2 linked regions of the Homo sapiens genome follow. The protein of the gene in region 2 interacts with the protein of the main gene of each other region in a biochemical or structural test. Each region holds a gene or a part of one and is shown on either strand. Other genes may lie near its edges.

What was found. The genes of interacting proteins can lie anywhere in the genome.
Region 1: the proteins of FOXA2 (region 2) and HOXA5 form a complex in vitro, tested with the Homo sapiens proteins (2 studies listed by BioGRID).

What each region holds. Positions count from the first base shown.
Region 1 is NC_000007.14:27,141,689-27,145,432, reverse strand, and holds the start of HOXA5 (homeobox protein Hox-A5), read left to right. Parts: upstream 1-1,751; 5' UTR 1,752-1,825; coding exon 1,826-2,387; intron 2,388-3,347; coding exon 3,348-3,598; 3' UTR 3,599-3,744. UniProt on the Homo sapiens protein: Sequence-specific transcription factor which is part of a developmental regulatory system that provides cells with specific positional identities on the anterior-posterior axis. Also binds to its own promoter.
Region 2 is NC_000020.11:22,582,596-22,586,339, forward strand, and holds the start of FOXA2 (hepatocyte nuclear factor 3-beta), read right to left. Parts: upstream 1,978-3,744; 5' UTR 1,684-1,977; coding exon 1,597-1,683; exon of another isoform or gene 1,148-1,596; intron 560-1,147; coding exon 1-559. UniProt on the Homo sapiens protein: Transcription factor that is involved in embryonic development, establishment of tissue-specific gene expression and regulation of gene expression in differentiated tissues.

The DNA.
Region 1 (3,744 bases), on a different chromosome or scaffold from region 2:
ATACCAGCGGTGGAGCGGGGCGCACTGCACACACCCAGTCCCGCTCCACAAGGATGCCCAAACCGGCTCCGGAGTTCTGGGGTGCGCCCTGAATGCGTCTGGGGCTCCTGTGCTAGTGTCTCTGAGCTCCCCGACCTCGGGACGCGGGGCTGCTGGGGAGGAAAGAGCCCTGGGCCGAGCCCCGTTTCGTGTCTGGGCGTCTCTGCCTAAGTCCCTCGCCAGTAAGTCCCGAAGGGCATCATCAAATCATCTCTGGCCAGTGGAAAGAGGGGGTCTAAGAGCTGGAGCCCGGCCTTGTCGCGGCCTCCCAAGCCGCCTCCCAGAACAGGAAGGAAGCTCGAGGAACAAAGGGGGCCCCAACAGAGCCCAGTCTCTCGGTCCCGCGTGTGCAACCGTCAGTGGAAGAGAAGCAGCCTCAGCCGAGGCGAGTTAACCTGGGCGCGGGTGGAACATTACAGCCCGGGGTAGGCTCCCGGCTCCGGATTCCCGCTCCCAGCCTCCGATAGCGCCCGCGTCGCCGCCACAGCAGCGTTCAGGACCCAACGAGGGGCCCAGGGCCATGGGAGCCGCCAGAGTCCTGGCTTCCAGACGTGCCAGGGGCGCCTGCAACGCCGGGCCTCCAGCGGGGAGACTCCACTTGCCTCTCAGCTATATTTGTGATTTACTTGAGTCTTTCGGAGCCGTGGAAAATAACTACAGAGATACTAGGCACTGCCAAGGAATGCTTCCATTATCGCCCTCATTTTACTCCTGGAGGTCTAAGCAAGACCCCAGTAACCCGCCCCACGGATCCCCAGACCCCAGGCAGCCTCTGTGGCTGCAGGGAGCCTGGGCCCACTCGCTGGGTTCAAGGAGAACCCTCCGACTTGGGGCCCGGCTGGCTCGAGGAACCGGACCCTGTGATGAAGATTTTCCAGGCTGGATACGTAAGCAAATCAAATCGCAAACTAATGACACGAAAACCATATTCACACGAAAGAAAAATCGACTACGGTTATAAAAGTGTATGGAATTTGACCTCGCCTTGGAGAAACACTACACAAAAGCTATCTTTAATAGACGCCTGTCATTTAAGAGCGGCAGGGACACTGTCCCTCATGCGCTCGCAAAAACAGAGCCGTAATTGTAGCTGCTGCTGCTGCGGGCAGGATTTATTTCTCCAATTGGCTAAATGGCTTTCCCCCTTCCCCGAAGGTGATATCTGTATTTTCAAAATTCAGAGCTGCTGGCAGGACGGTCAGTACCGACCCCAACCTCGACACAAAAATAAGAGGGGCTGCAAAACGGGGGAAATAAAGTTGTTGTAAATAAAATGCAAGTCACCACCTCCCCCCAATCCTCTGCATCCTCGCCGGGCGCGCGATCGGCAGCTGACGGCCTAACAATTGGTACATCCTAATGGAACTGCGAGGGAAATGCAATAATTTTGCCATAATGGGCTGTAACCTCAATTCGACCCCGGCCCTTGCAGCCCCCGGTCGGAAGCTGGGCGATGAGCCCTGCCTCCAGCGGGTGGCGCTCGAGTCCGGCTGAACGGCGGCAACTGGCGGCGGGCACGCGCCCGGGGCGCGCGCGCCACCCCCCTCGCCTCCACCCAACTCCCCTATTAGTGCACGAGTTTACCTCTAGAGGTCATCAGGCAGGATTTACGACTGGACAACAAAAGCACGTGATTCGAAGTCGTACCCCATATTTGGGTGCCTACGTAGGAGGGAACCAAGTACATGTCCCAGTCATTTCCATAATTCATCATAAATTGTGCAAGGGTGCTATAGACGCACAAACGACCGCGAGCCACAAATCAAGCACACATATCAAAAAACAAATGAGCTCTTATTTTGTAAACTCATTTTGCGGTCGCTATCCAAATGGCCCGGACTACCAGTTGCATAATTATGGAGATCATAGTTCCGTGAGCGAGCAATTCAGGGACTCGGCGAGCATGCACTCCGGCAGGTACGGCTACGGCTACAATGGCATGGATCTCAGCGTCGGCCGCTCGGGCTCCGGCCACTTTGGCTCCGGAGAGCGCGCCCGCAGCTACGCTGCCAGCGCCAGCGCGGCGCCCGCCGAGCCCAGGTACAGCCAGCCGGCCACGTCCACGCACTCTCCTCAGCCCGATCCGCTGCCCTGCTCCGCCGTGGCCCCCTCGCCCGGCAGCGACAGCCACCACGGCGGGAAAAACTCCCTAAGCAACTCCAGCGGCGCCTCGGCCGACGCCGGCAGCACCCACATCAGCAGCAGAGAGGGGGTTGGCACGGCGTCCGGAGCCGAGGAGGACGCCCCTGCCAGCAGCGAGCAGGCGAGTGCGCAGAGCGAGCCGAGCCCGGCGCCGCCCGCCCAACCCCAGATCTACCCCTGGATGCGCAAGCTGCACATAAGTCATGGTAAAGCCAGCCTTTTTCTAAATCCACGCGACCGCGGGGACGCGGCTCTCGGTCCCCCCTCTCTTCTCTGCCGCCCTCTCCCAGTCTCTCTTGGTCTCATTTCTCCCAGCCCTGCGGAGCTCTCCTTGCCGTTCTCCCTCCCCTGCCTTCCTCCTTCCTCCTCTTCTTTGCGAGCACCCTGCGCTCACAAATAGTGGGGGAAATGGGCGTTCTCTGGGACAGTTTAGACGTTGGAAGGGGGAGGAAGCAAAAAACCCCTCTGGAACCCCACGCCTTGGGACGCGCTCCCGGGTCAGGCCAGCCGAGCAAGGCGCAGAGAGGTAGAGGATGGCTGTAGCAGCCGTGAATCGGGCTTGTCACGGCGGATAATTTATGAGGAGGGCTACGCTGGGGAAACAGCGTTACTAATTACAGCCCCCGAAAAGGGGCTTGGGGGAAAGAATCGAGGCGAGAGCCTGCAGGATTCTGAATTTTGGGGGCAGGAGGGAGAGAGAAGGAAAGGGAAGAAAAAGAAAACAGGCTCCCCAACCCTGCAGGCTGGAAACGGGAGGCGGCTCTCGGGGCTGGAACTTTGAGGGAGGGTGACCCGAAGGCCACTTGGGCGCTCAGGAAAGGGCCTTGCTTCCTGGGTTTCTGTGCGGTGGGCAGCCTGGGAGGGCTGTGCCTCCCGATCGGGGCGCCCGGGGCAGGGCGGAGGGGGCAGGAGAGGGGCCAGGGAAAGCCGGAGTCCGCCGGGACACGGCCCCAGCCTCAGATGGGCAGATTGTTCCCAGGGTCCAAATCGTATTGTTTTCTTTCTAGAAAGGAAGAGAGAAGGAAATTCGGGAGGGGTGTGCGGGCTGGTAGGCAGAACTTGTTGAGCTTTTCGCCTGGGTTCCCTGCTCATGACCCAAGCTTGTCCCCCTGGCGGACTTTGGAAGACAGGAGTTGGTGGCTAAACCGCTGACTTTTCTATTGCAGACAACATAGGCGGCCCGGAAGGCAAAAGGGCCCGGACGGCCTACACGCGCTACCAGACCCTGGAGCTGGAGAAGGAGTTCCACTTCAACCGTTACCTGACCCGCAGAAGGAGGATTGAAATAGCACATGCTCTTTGCCTCTCCGAGAGACAAATTAAAATCTGGTTCCAAAACCGGAGAATGAAGTGGAAAAAAGATAATAAGCTGAAAAGCATGAGCATGGCCGCGGCAGGAGGGGCCTTCCGTCCCTGAGTATCTGAGCGTTTAAAGTACTGAGCAGTATTAGCGGATCCCGCGTAGTGTCAGTACTAAGGTGACTTTCTGAAACTCCCTTGTGTTCCTTCTGTGAAGAAGCCCTGTTCTCGTTGCCCTAATTCATCTTTTAATCATGAGCCTGT
Region 2 (3,744 bases):
AGTGGCGGATGGAGTTCTGCCAGCGCTGCTGGTTCTGCCGGTAGAAGGGGAAGAGGTCCATGATCCACTGGTAGATCTCGCTCAGCGTCAGCATCTTGTTGGGGCTCTGCTGGATGGCCATGGTGATGAGCGAGATGTACGAGTAGGGCGGCTTTGCGTGCGTGTAGCTGCGCCTGTAGGTCTTGGGGTCGCGGGCGCGGCTCAGGCCCGCCTGCCCGTACATGGGGCTCATGGAGTTCATGTTGGCGTAGGGGGCCAGGCCGCCCATGGCCCCGGCCGCCTGCCCCCCGAGCGGGCTCAGGCTGGGACTCAAGTGCGGCCCCATGCCCGCCACGCCGGCCGCCCCGGCCGAGCCGCCCATGCCCGCCATGGCGCCCGCGCCGGGGGACATCCCCGCCAGGGACGGGCTCATGCCAGCGCCCACGTACGACGACATGTTCATGGAGCCCGCGCTCATGTTGCCCGAGCCGCTGCCCATGGCGGCCGCCGACATGCTCATGTACGTGTTCATGCCGTTCATCCCCAGGCCGGCGTTCATGTTGCTCACGGAGGAGTAGCCCTGCGGACAGAGCCCCGGGAGGGAGGCGACAGCGTTAGCACCGCGGCTGGAGGGTGCCCAGACCTCCCACCCACCGCCCAGGCCTCCGCGTCCGGGGAGGCCTCCGGGGAGCCCTTTCGTCCCCGATGGCCCAGTCTCCGGACTCCGAGTCTGTTTCATTCAGGGAGAGTCATGATCGATCGCCCTTGGGAAGGTGGCGAGCGGATTGCTGCTTGGGCATGTGGCCCGTTCCTAGCCCTTCTCCACCTCGCCCAGATTCTAGAACAGGGGTCCCATGGAGTACTCCCAAGCCAGCACCCCAAATACATTCCCCTACCCCAGAGTCTCCCCAAACTCTCCCACCAGCATACTGAGCTGGCGCCGAGGCCCGAAGTCCCCGGACGCCACCTCCGGTCGCAGCAAGCAACCTGCGGGACAACGCGCGGGGCGCCTCGGGCTGCCTCCAGCGAAGACTGTCCCGGGCCCCCTCTGTCCGGTCTCCCTCCAGGGACCCCCTCCCTTGTCCCAGGGAAACTGCAAGGCAGTGCCTGTGCGGAGTGCGGGGGCGGCTGGAGGCACTGAACGGGGCAATAGGGAAAGAACCGAGACCTGAACCACACGCGGCTGAGCTTTGCAGGCAAAAACTTTCTTTCTCTTTGTCCACTAGTCTTTGACTCTGCCTCCACTTCAGCCCCCAACTCCTACCCATCTTCTCCTCCTCAGCTCCCCACCCCCTCGCCGGCCGACCTCCCACCCCTCCCCAGCCGCGCGCTGCCAAACATAACTCTGTTAGGATAGTGCGTGGCTCGGCCACGAAGAGGATTTGGAGGCGCCGCAAGTCAATATTTGATCACAAAGTTAATATTATCTCAAGGCTAACAGTGTGTCGTATAAAAAAGAGACCCATTTGATTCCAAGGAGGGCGGAAAAGGCGGCTGCCCAGAAAGGCTGGGGTTGTGGGGCGGGGTGGGGGGGTGCCAGCGAGGGAAGCGGTCCTGAGGTTGGGGAAGGAGCGAGCGCCGCCGCTCCACTTCCCCCTGGAAAAGACGAGCGCTTACCTCGGGCTCTGCATAGTAGCTGCTCCAGTCGGACGGCTCGTGCCCTTCCATCTTCACCGCTCCCAGCATACTGGAAGCCGAGTGCATGGCAGTTTAAAATTTAACAGCCACAACAAACGACCAGCAATCACCCCCCACCCCCACCCTCTTTTAAAAAAAAGTCAGCCAAAGCACCGTCCCCTCCTCCCTCCCTCTCTCGCGCTCCCTCTCCCTGGGCTCCACTCCCTCTCTCTCCCTGGGCAGGCCGGAGGCGGTAGTTGGAAGTGGGCGGGAGGTGGGGGGGGGCGAGGAGCGGAGGAGGCCCAGGCCAGCGCCCCGCGGTAGGGAGCACCCGCCGCCGCCGCGCTCACGGGCTGCCGGGTGGCGGCTGAGGTTGGCAGTGCCGAGCTGCCCCGAGGCGGCGGGAAGCGCGCGGCGCGGGGGCTAGTGGGGGGGTGGGGAGGAGGAGGAGGAAGGAGGAGGAGGAGGCGGTGGTGGTGGTGGAGGAGGAGGAGGAGGAGGAGGAGGAGGAGGAGGAGGAGGAGGTGTGGACCGCGGAGCGGACAAGTGCCGCAGTGACGTGGGAGGCTGGTGATATAGCGCGGCGCGCTGGCGCGGGCCTCCAATCCCCAGACCCGGGGCAGCCCATTTGAATAATCAGCTCACACCTAGGTGAGAGGTAGCCGCAGCCGGCGCTCCGCACCTGCCCCTCAGCGCCTGCCGTCCGCCCCACCGCCGCGGCGCCCCGCACTCCTGGGCGGGCCAGGGGAGCGGGCTGGGCGGGCGATCGGGCACGCGGGATCCCTGGTCGAGCCCCCTTTCCTCCCGGGTCCACAGCGAGTCCCCTGAGGAAGGAGGGACCTGGGAGGAAACCACCCTCTGGGGCGGCTCCGGCCTCCAGCCCCCGCCCCGTCTCATCGCGCCGGGCGCCCGGTGCGCCTGTCGGAGGGCGCGTCCAGCCTCAGTGCCCGGCAGATCCCTATGAAAGCCGGATTTATTTATGCCGGGTTTCTTCGCTCTCAGTGCTCATTCTCTGTCAAAACAGCAAGTCCATGACAGCCAATTTGCAAAGCGCTGTCCTATTTAGAAAAACTACGTACACACCTTTAACTCGCCCGCTGCTGCTCCTGCGAGGCCCCTCCCTGTTACAGTTCAGACCCGGAACGGCCTCGGGAGAAGCGCGGGGCGCACGGTCTGGCCGCCTCGGCTCTCCGACTCCTCAGACACCGGCCGCCAGGGACCCGCAGTGGGGCGGCCGGCGCCTGGCGCAAGCAGCCCCTCTAGCAGCGGCCGACGGTTGGGAGGCTGAGATTTGTCTCTGATATTCAGGCCGGCGTGTTTCAAGGTTACTTTTCAGTCACAACCGAGGTGCCCACAGCATTTCGTAACTAAAACAAACAGGGCAGGAGGTGGGGAGGGAGGGGTGAGGAGAGAAGAATCCAGGAATCAATGATGGGGCATATGGAGTTGACTTCAAGAGCGTCTCTGTCCTCTCTGTCTTCCAGAGGGACTGCTTAATAGAAATTAGAAACTCCAGCAATCGTATACTTTTATTTCCCCAGCAGCTCTTGGGTTCAAAAATTGTCTTCTGTTCTGGGTTAGCCTGTGAGCCCAGATTTGGAGTGGGGGGATATTGCAGGTGTTTGGATGTGGAGGCTCTTTCTTGGTTCTGAAAACCTGGCTGGACCTTGGGGATCCAGCCCTGTACCCACCCCCTCAGACACAGAGAATGCATAGGAACTAGTGGGCATCCAGCCCACCTGTCCAAAATTGGGGGCGATGGTGGCAGAAGACAGGCGAGATGGCAGACACGGAGCTTCGCATTGAAGCTTGAGTAAGGGTGAGGCTGGAAGGCAAGCGAGGAGGTAGCAGTAGGCACAGGGGAACCACTTCCCTAACCCCAGGACTCTCAGGTCTGCACGGTTTGGGACACAGAAGGAAGCCGCCGGCAGCATCTTTTGCTGCTGAAATGCAGATGGTTTGGACACTTCATAAAGAGGGCATTAATAAGCCCGCCGAGTGAGCGCCAGGGCGGGATTCTCCCACAAATTCAAGGTCTGTATCTCCGCGGAAGCCGTGCCTATCGGTCCCCCGAGTGCTGAAGGCTCCCACGAGGGGCAGGCCAGCCCGGTGCGCCAGGGAAGGAGCTTGATGGTGTGTACGGCTACG